2 separate regions of the Homo sapiens genome follow, and region 1 is linked to region 2. Evidence: fine-mapped expression QTL. A gene starts in region 2. The other region holds a variant in brackets. All regions are shown on one strand. Distances are from middle to middle.

Region 1 (5,393 bases), 35 kb before region 2:
ACTCCACACCCATTAAACAACTACCTTCTCTTTCTTCTCCCCAGGGGAATAGAATTTTGACTCTATATAAATCAAGAAACGCCTGACTTCTTTAGTAGTTTGTATTTGCAAGATCTAAGATCATGGTAAACATTAGGTCCTAAAATCTTGGGGAAGGACAACATGTCCTTCCTCTGACTTGTTAGCAATCAAATTGAGTAGGTTTTAAATGTCTGTTAATTGGAAGGGTTTGTTATTTCATTTTCAGCCAAAGGAGAGAGGTGCATTTTAAGTATCAGAATTAGATCAGCTTTGAGTTTGTACTAAATTTGGAATGTAATAGATTTTCATAAATTACGTGTGCCTTTTTGGAAATGTCAACTGTCTTTATGTCTGCTTGTAAAAGTTTCAAAATATGTTTTTCTCTCAAAAAGGCAACGTTATTTCATTTGCTTGAATATTATGATAGGAACGCTTACTGATATTACTTGATAGTTTTATATAGCCTTGGAACTTTAACATATAATATAGCAGTATTAATCATGATAGTTGTACTTCTTTGAAACATTAAATTTGAGGAAACTAATCTATGTAATTGTCTCCACTTCTTCACCTCTCACCCACGCTTCAGACTTCTTCCCTGATCCCCATACTGAATCAGCTGTCACTCAAGTCATTAGGGAGCTCCTCACGCTAAATCAATTGCCTCTTCTCAATTCACATCTTACCTCCACTTAATTCGGTATTTAATATTCCTGAAACTCTTCTCCCTTGTTTTATCTGATGCTATTCTCTTTTAGTTTTTCTTCTACTTCTCTGATAATTCCTTATGACTTTTAAAATGTGCTTTTTCTAAGAATAAATCTTATGATATGTTCTTGCGTGCCTTTTAAATGCTGACATTCCTTAGGGTCCTGCCCTTGGCTGTCCTCTACTGACTCTCTCTAAGTAATCCCAGCCCCTCCCTAGTGACCAGGGATCAACATGAAATATGATCCCAGCATAACTGAAATGCAGGAGGGGTGCTTGCCTCCAAATAGTGGGGAGTGCTATTACCAAGAAAAGTAGGCAGACAGTGTTGAGCCAGCAAAAACAATAAAGGTCAGTCACATCACGTGTGAGTCATTTCTACTTATTATCAGCTCCCACTAAGAACTTCCCTGACAGAGCGTTTAGGGAGAAGAATCCTGAATTAAGGGGGGATTAACCTGGATCTTGAAAGCTAGCTGGCTAATGAAGGAGGGAGAAAAACTGTTGATTTAGAGTGAAGGCACCAACTTGGAAATGTGCATAGGTTGTGTGTATATGTGAGAAGGTGAGGGATAGTGGAGTGCAGGGATGAGTGGCCTGGCTAGGCAGAGCATTCACACTAGAGAGGAATGGAGCATAAGGTCAGGTGACGGGGTGGGTGACCACAGTGAACTAGGCAAGCAGAAGAGTGTGAGCTCATCAGGGGAGTCACAAGCTGAAACAGATGCATTAGCAATTTATTTGTGTAGTAGAGGAGTTGGCAGTGGTACTGCGTGGGATTGAAGACTGCTAGACTTTAGGCAAGGGGATCACTTAAGGAATTTCTTATTGATTCACATTTTGAGTAAGTTGGCTCCTGGGCTAGGTGATGAAGATAAAGGATATAAGAGAACTTCAAAAGAAGCCTAGACCATATGTGATCATTTTCTGAATATCCTAGGGAATGTTGTGAAACAATTCAGCTTTTGATTCAGCCCCCCAAGTGATAAACCTCTCATTTAGCAAATATTTTTGAGTTCTACTATGTGTATGTCATTGAGTTAGACACTAAAAACAACCTAAAATAAACCAGATACAGTGCTGGACATCAAGAAGGTTAACTGTGTGGGAGACGAAATAACTTGTTTACATAAATAACACTAATACAAGACAGAGAGTGACTAGGCAGAGGAAAGACATGGTGTGGTCTGAAGATTGAAAGGTCACTTCCAGCTTAGGGTGAGGGACTAGTGAGTTTGCTGTCCTTTGAATGAACTGTGCTTTTAATAATGGTTTGCACTTAAAATGCTATTTGCCTTCCCTATACCATTATCTATCCTCTTAAATTCCATTTGTCCTCATATTGGTTCAAAAGTGACTTTTCCAAGTACCTTTAAGCAAGTCACATACTCACCATTGGCCTCATACAAAACTGTATATGTGTGTATTTCCCATTGTCTATGTGTGTATAATGCTCTATTTATTTATCCATCCATGTATCCATTTACAATTATATGTATTTTTACAGAATCCATACATACGTATAATACATATGTGATTGTGAGTGATTCTCATTTTGTTCCTTATATGTTTCTGTACTTTTAAATTTTATACAAGGAACACACATCACTTTTATGATTATGAAAAATAAAACTAAAAATAAACGAAAACAGTCTCGCAATAATCTGCAGGTTGCTCTATAAATGTGAGCACTTCAAGAATCAGGAGCATTTTCTTCAAGCTGAGTGACTATCTTTGAGTCTGTTAACATCTCACTCGGGTCCCACAATTTTTCTCCACCTCCAAGTAGTTTCTTTAGTGTCTGAGACCTTCCCTAAGTGTATGCTTGGAAATGCTCAAACTTGGCCTCCTTCCTTCTCAACTGAACTGCGGTGTGCAGAACCTGTGAATAAAGGCCGATTCCCAGGCTGGAACAGGTCCTCCTGATCCAAGTTCAGAAG[G/C]CTCTCTCTTCTTTCCTAGGGCAGAGCCCGAGTGCCAGGACCACCGTTGCGCTGCCCAGCAGAAGGGGCTGCCTCTGGATGAGCGTGATGAAGACTGGGATGCCAAGAAAAGGGAGCTGGAGCTGTCTCTTCCTTCCCTAAATCAAAACATGAATAAAAAGAATAAGAAAAGTCGAGGCCCCACCAGGCCCAGCAATACCAAGGGGAGGAGAGTATGAGAACTCAACCTTATGTTTTCTGGCAAGGAACTTTCCCTGGTGCCAGAAATGAGGCTGTTAGGCATGGTGGCCTTTCCATGACTTTACTCATAGACCCTTACCCACCTGGCTTCTGCCCATGGACCTGTCATTAGGTGCTGTCCACATGGGCTGTTGTTTCCTGGCTAGCACCTACTGTGTACAATAATTACCGGGAAAGGACAAAACCTGCTTGCATTTTGTCATCAGTGGTTTGCACAGTCAGCATCTTTTGACCCCTGCCCCCCAACAATAATAGAATTTCAGGAGACAAGGAAACTCTGGCATGAATTAACTTCATCCCTGATAACGATCGAGAGATAATGTAAAATAATGAACATGTGATTATAGGTCTACTTTTTCAACTGTAAATTTGGGAAAATTAAATTCAGATCAGATAATTCCAATAAAAAATTGCATCCAAATTGAGATGCAAAATACACATTAGATTTCAAACACTTAGTACAAAAATATAAAATGTCTCCTTAATAATACTTAATATTGATTCCACATTGAAATGATAATATTTTGGATATTGCGTTGAATAAGATATATTACCAAAATGAATTTTATCTTTTTCCTTTTCCTTTTTAAAACATGTGGCTACTAGAATGTTTAAAATTACCCATGTGCTTTTTTAGTTTATTTCTATTGGACAGCATTGCTATAGAACCCAAACAGCATGTTAAGCCTCTACTAGGAGACTAGTCTGGTGTATTTTACTTTCCCTGGCTGCTCTGCATTTTAGATATACTAATTTCTCTGCCTAAATCAATTTATTTAGCTATCAAGTATCTTTATTACTTATTCCTCAATTAATGCTTGTGTTAATACAAGTCATGCTTTGTTTGAATTTTCTGGTATGAAAAAAATGCTTGAATATCTTATAGAAAAGCAGTATAGCTATAGAGGATACCTTTCCTCGTGTTGATCTACCCTTGAGCATCAATCCCTTTCTCTATGCTCTGCAATGCAGAGTAGTTCCTGCTTTGGACCAGTAGAAACATTGGAAGACAACTGACTCGAGCTGGACTAATAAGATTCTTCTCCTGGGTACTTGAAAAGAAATCCTCATGATAGGCTGGACCAATAGCAGATGACTTCAGAAGTATGGAGTGGCTAATTCTACACTAGGGCTGAGGAAGGGTACAGAGATGCTCTACAAAAAGGACAAGAAGACCGAGGAAAAGACAAAGGGATAGAGATAGGTCAGTAGATAAATGAATAGAGAGATTAGATAGATAGATAGATAGATAGATAGATAGATAGATAGAGATGAATAGTTAGATAATTTGCTATTCCTAGTTCTGGTTCCTTACTCAGGAATCTGTGAAATACTATTTTATCATAAAAGTTGCCCTTTGCTTACAGTATATTGAATTGATTATTTTCCTTGCAAGCAGACTTTTCTAATAAGTACAGTATTTTAATCATGGGCTTATGAGTAATGGTGACTTAGGTTTGTATCCTCCTCTACGGAAATAGGTAAAAGAATTCCCATTTCCTGGGGTTGCTGTGAGGATGAGATGGACAATGTGTGTAAGATGCTGACATTGGCACACTATAACTGGTTTATGTCATGACTGTTGTATTACTATAGAAGTGAACTCAGTTTTCCCCTGGGAATCCCAAAGGGATCCAGGAATAATGCCTTTTATAGGTCACATGAGGCTCTTTATTGTCCAGTCCATAAATATCCCATCTAGTTTTGTGGCATGGATAATAGCCTGTCCTCCATCAGCTGGACAAAACTGTGATAAGCAAAGTGTCTTTGGTTGTGTCCACAACCCTATGGCCTCCCAGTGCCCTCATTGTGCCCTCATTTCATACTTATTCTCATTGAGATATAAAGAGACTTATGTCTTCTCCCACAAGTTTTTAGGTAGTAAGTGAGAACAACAGGAAGAGAATGCTAAAATAGCTTCTCTGTATGAATAATTTAATGCAACATAGACTCTATACTAAGTGCTTTACATGGATTGTATCTAATCTGCATGACATACCTGCAAGGCAAGTATCATTATCCCCAACTGACATCACAAACTGAAGTTCTGAGAGGTTGAATGACTTGCCCTAGGCCACCTGACCGATGTTTGTGCTGGCTGTAAAGCCTGGCTGGATTTGGTCGATGGGCTAATCTTTCAGGCTCTAAGACCTTTGGCAGGTTGCTTAACTTCTCAAGTTTCCTCTTCTGTAAACAGGGAGATCATACCAGCACCTATGTCATAGGGTTGTGGTGAGGATCAAATGAGATAATACATGTTAGCTACTTAGTACAATGTCCTCAACAAGGTGTGGGTCACCAAATGTCAGTTGCTGTGGTAGTTATTATTTTTCACAGCCTTCACTGTCCCAGATACGTAACAATGAAGAATGGCTTGCCTCGAAGCATTTCCCTCAGTCCAGAGGGGGAGATTTGGGGTGACATCATTCTCTGAAGTCCATCAAAACCCTGAATGAAGTTGTCCACTATATTCTTGCCCCTGAG
Region 2 (5,393 bases):
AGAGGTGTACCAAAGCAACAGCACTGCCTTTTTCTTTAGAAAATAAAATAACAAACTCCTACTTCCTGGTTTCCAAGATTAACAAATATTCAGTTTTACCAAATATTCAGTTTTACCATAATTGCTTCAGAATTTGAGAAAAATTAAACAACACATTTAAGAAATAAAAGTCTCATATGTTTTCCACACTGATACTTAAAGCCAATTATTCTTACGATGTTGGCCAGTTTTAAAATTTGATTATTGCCCAATTTTTAAATGGTCTAGATTGTAGTTGCTCACTTAAGTCATTGCGGCTGTTGGGCAAATTTGGCTTTTTGTTTTGTTTTGTTTCGTTTAAAAAATAATATTAGTGGTTTGTAATGGTTAGAGACGGTGGAAGATGGCCTTTTATCACCTCACCATCAGTGGCTTAGGTAAAACAAAAATCAGCCATAGAACGCTTCTGCCCATCAGAAGCAGGCCCCCAGTTGACATGCCTCCTATTTTACAGCTCAAGAAGCTCTACTGTTCACCTTCTAAAAGTCTTTTGTGACAGGAAATGCTTTTTTGACAGCAGGACTAGCCCACCTGCCCAGTAGTAAGTCTGAGGTAGAGAGATGCAGGCTCTAGACCTTGAAGATTGCTCTAATGCCAAAGATTCTTATATCTGGTGCAGGCAAGAATAGGTGGGTGTGTGCATATATTTAGTATTGTGCTGGCGCAGATGGAGCCCACTGTGTACATCTCTTCCCAACACTGCATTCAGTGACATGGTGTTGGTAGCTTGAAATTGACCATGGCAATCAACAAACACTACAAATAAAGGCTTGGTTTTGTTTGTTTGCTTGTTTGTTTTTACTTTTTTTAAAAGAGCCGATTATTAAACATTTACCTGTGCATGGCTGAATATATTCCATAATTTATCTTTTCTTTTAGTATAAACACATTTTCCCCATTCTTTACCATAACAAAAAAACTTCAATGAATATGCTATGTGGAATTTTGTGCACATATGTGTGAGTTCCTTTAGCATATAGACCTAGAAGTGAAGTTTCTATCTTATGAACTGTGCACATTTCAACTTCATTAGATAGCATCAAATTGATGTCCTACTAGATTTCCTATTTTCTTACCTTCTTGTTGACACTTGATATTGTCAGTCTTCTTAATTTATGCCAATCTTAGCTTGAGGTGGTATTTTACTGCTATTTGAACCTATAATTTTTCTGATTACTTACGAGGCTAAAAATCTTTTTACATATTTATTGGCCATCTGGGTCTTTTGTGAATTTGCTACTCATATTTTTTGTTCATTTTTTCCTTAGATAATCTCCTGTTCTTTTTATTGATTTGTAGAAATTCTTTACATATCCTGAATACTTATTCTTATTCAATTATATGCAGTATACATATCATCTCTCACCTGTGGCTTGTCTTTTAATCATGTTATGTTTTTGTCATAAAGAAGTTTAAATTTTGATACAGTCAAATGTATTATTCTTTTCCTCTGTAATTTCTATGTTTTTTTCATGTTTAAGCAATCTTTCTTGACCTAAAGGTTAAAAATATGTTCCTATATTTTCTTTTTTGAAGTTTATATTTTCATATTTAAATTTTTAATCTATCTAGAATTTATTTTTGTCAATGGTATCAGGTGTACATTTAATGTATTTCCTCATATGGAAATGCAATTATTCCCACATTATTATGAAAGAGACCCAAGTTTCCCTCTTGCCTTTTTGGTTCCTCTTATACATAAAAGCCCTGCATATGCTTGCATCTATTTGGATATTACCTATTCCAGTCTATAGATTCATTTTATCTTTATTTTTGGAACTATTACACTCTAATTACTGTAACTTTACCAAAGCTCCTGATATTCTTTTGAGGCAATTCTTTTCTCTTTATTCAGCCTTTTCAGAATTTTCTTATCTATTCTTCAATGTTTACTCTTTCATGCGAATTGAACCATTTGTCAGCTTGGCAAGTTCCACTGAAAACCCTGTTAGATTTTTTACTAGAATGACAATGAATTTATAGATTAATATTAAAACAATCTATTAATATTTCATACATATGTACATATAGAGAGAGAGTCAGGTATTTTTATGTCCTTCAATAATTGCTTTATAACATTTCCATAAAATTTGAATTTATATTTTATTAGAATTAAATAATAATAATTTTATAAATTATTTTTATTTTTATTGTTAAGGGGATCGTCTATCCTGTTTTATGATATGAATGGCTATGGCTGCCCTATAGGAATGTTATTAGTTCTTATATGCTCATTTCCGTATTAATTTTTCAAACTTTTCCCCAGTCTTTGGAGCTTAAGCATTTAAGGTAAACTTAGTGTTTGTCCTCGAAAGAGTCAATGATGTTATCTTTGACAACCTTTATTGGCACTACGGTACATATGGAAGGGTCAAAGTTTCTAATACGACCGTCAGGGTAAAGTCTAAACGGTATTTATGACAAGGTGTGTGCTAAAATCAGCTCACTTGCAGCAATGGCTTGGATTAGATCCACTTGCATTCTCTTTTTTACCTTGCTTTTTGCCCACATAGCAGCTGTACCGGTAAGTCGAGTCCTGCTTTTTGGATATTTAGAAATATTAATTCTAGTATACATTATCCATTTTCTGTATATTTATTTTTTTCAGATTAAGTATCTTCCTGAAGAAAATGGTAAGAATTAGTTCAAATGCACAGAGAGTGTTTTTGAACTTTTTTCCTTCGGCAAGACTAATAATAATTTTTTTTCTCACTTTTAACAGTACATGATGCAGATTTTGGTGAACAGAAGGATATTTCAGAAATCAATTTAGGTGAGTTCAATTTTTGTGTTATTAAAGTCTTGAAATTACTTGAAACCCAGTGGTGGGATTACTGAACACTTTCCTTCCTAATACTGTATTGTGATTCTCTGGGGGAGAAATATTTTTTGGTGCTTTGTGAGAAATTGCATTTTCTGAAAGATAAAAATGCGGAAAGAGAAGATAGTTAGACCAGACTTTCTAGGAGAGCTAGGAAGTCCTCAATGGATCTAGAAATATGTAACAAGTTTCTCTTTATAAAAATTTTATTTTTCCAATTTGTATTTGGAGGAAAAGGAAAGCAAATAGATAATTATTCCGATTGTTAAAGAAAAATATAAGAATAAGCCTCTGGTTATATTTAGTGGGGAAACAAAACCCAACCCCTCCACTGGCCCATCATATTCACTAACAACTCCTCGGTTGAGACTTAGGGGTGAGTGTAAAGCAATCTCCACTTAGACATCTCATTTACAAATATATTTCTTGAAGAAATTCATCAGTCTCATCCATTACTGAGAGGAGAGAGAAGCTGAGTCATCATCTCTGTTTTCTCTCTGTTGTCCTGCTTCTGAAATGAGAGAGAAGCCTCTGCATTCCCAGTGTCTTAGGTCAGGATTTGTGGAAGCAGAGCTATTCATGATAATAAGTACCTTCAGTTTACAAAAGCTTTTATATGCAATTGCATATTTATTTGTCCAGTCTTGTCGTGGAGTAAGTGCTGTTTTCATTTTTTTGGGAAGCGACAGGTGGCTTCTCATGGGTAGAGTGACTTGCTCAAGATCATAGGTAGCAGTGATGGGGCTTACTTCCAGATCTTGTAGCCCATACCTTAATAGCTCAGTGCTATCTGAAGGCTACAAAACTAACATACCAATAACTAAGGGTCAATTTTTCTGGCTTTGTCTCACTCACAGAGAAGCCAGTTAGTTGATATTTAATTGGAATAGCTGGAGAATGGCTGCATAGGCAGAGCAGAAATAGTTTAGGAAGGTAAATGGGTGAATGCATAAATGGGTCCCAAGACTTCAGAGCCAGGCACTAAAATATCTCTCTTTAGAGTTAGCCATTGTGTAAACAGTTCAGAGAATCTGCTGTATTTTACAACAGAAATGGGATTAGAATTAGAGTTTTTCTAATCTCATCATTATTTATCTAATAAAAATTAATTATTTACCTCTTTGCCATTTTGTACTCTTTAGGCCCACCACCACCTCTGATCCTTGACCCCAGTGGAGAAATCTCATTACCATGTAAATCTTCTTTTTAGGCCATTTCAACCAAACCACCAGGATTGATTGGGTTAGCCATATGGCCAGATTCTAACACCATAAATTGGGAAAATCATATAGAGAAAATTGCCACCTTTTTACCATCTTCTTTTTGCCTCACAAGGCTGAGTAAACGTTTCTTATCCTCCATCCCAAGACCTGCTCCTCTCAGTCCTTTTCATTTCAGTAAATGTGACTCACTCCTTCTAGATTTTCGGCTCAGAATGTTAGAGTTGCCCCTAACTCTTGCTTTTCTCTCACACCTGACACACAATCTGTCAGCAAATGTTATTCGATCTACTCGATCTACTTTTCTTTTTTCTCTTTTCTTTTCTTTTCTCCTGAGATGGAGTGTTGCTATGTCACCCAGGCTCGAGTGCAGTGGTGCCATCTCGGCTCACTGCAACCTCCGCCTCCTGGGTTCAAGCGAGTCTCCTGCCTCAGCCTCCCGAGTAGCTGGGATTATAGGTGCCCACCACCATGCCAGGCTAGTTTTTCTATTTTTAGTAGAGATGGGGTTTCTCTATGTTGGCTAGGCTGGTCTTGAACTCAAGACCTTGTGATCCGCCCACCTTAGCCTCCCAAAGTGCTGAGATTACAGGCATGAGCCACCACGCCTGGCCTAGATCTACTTTCAAATCATACTACAGTTGAGACTTTTCAGCACTTTTACTGCCCCTACCTTGGTCAGCCACCTCATGTCTGGGCTGGTCCTTTGACAGGCCTCATAACTGTGCTTCCCTTTCTGCCTTTGCTCCCTAAAGACTATTCTGCACAACATAGAGCTCTCCTTTTAATATCCTTCAGATCATGTCATTTCTCTGCTCCAACCATCTAATGACTTCTCCTTCAACATAAAGTAAAGGCCCTAGAGCCTTGATTCCCAAAGTGTGGTCCACAGGCCAAAGTGATCTGTGTCACTCAAGAGCTTTCTCTTAGAAATGCAGCATTTGAGGATCCACCCCAGACCTACAGAATTAGCATCTTCATTTTGACAGACCCAAGTGGTTTCTATGCACATCAGAGTGTGAGTCAATCTGCCCCTGACTACTCTTCCCCTTCCTACTTGAGCTTTCCAGCCACCCTGACTGCACAGCTACTCCTCTAAGGAAGTGATTTTCGATGTGTTGTCCCCAAGCCAGCAGCATCGGCATCACCAGGAAACTTGTTAGGAATGAACATTCTCAGGCCTCACCCCAGACTTAATGGACCAGAAATCCAACGGTGGGGGCTCATCAACGGGTGTTGACCAAGCCTTCCAAGGGACTCTGATGCTCAAGTTTAGGACCACTGCCCTAAGACATCAAGGCTTTCCTGTCACA

The links. PIP is the estimated chance that this variant, and not a neighbour inherited with it, causes the effect.
Region 1: its variant is fine-mapped to the expression of MEP1A in nasal epithelium (TOPMed, PIP above 0.99).

What each region holds. Positions count from the first base shown.
Region 1 is chr6:46,756,035-46,761,427 of GRCh38, forward strand. It overlaps ANKRD66 (ankyrin repeat domain 66), which reads left to right. Exons shown (of 5, transcript NM_001162435.3): 5 at 2,689-3,472. The coding sequence ends at 2,887. Among named protein-coding and RNA genes, the nearest start is that of ANKRD66, 12 kb to the left of the region's middle. The variant G/C (reference allele first, on the strand shown) is at 2,670.
Region 2 is chr6:46,790,905-46,796,297 of GRCh38, forward strand. MEP1A (meprin A subunit alpha) reads left to right here and starts at 2,485. Exons shown (of 14, transcript NM_005588.3): 1 at 2,485-2,563; 2 at 2,648-2,672; 3 at 2,762-2,812. The coding sequence starts at 2,495.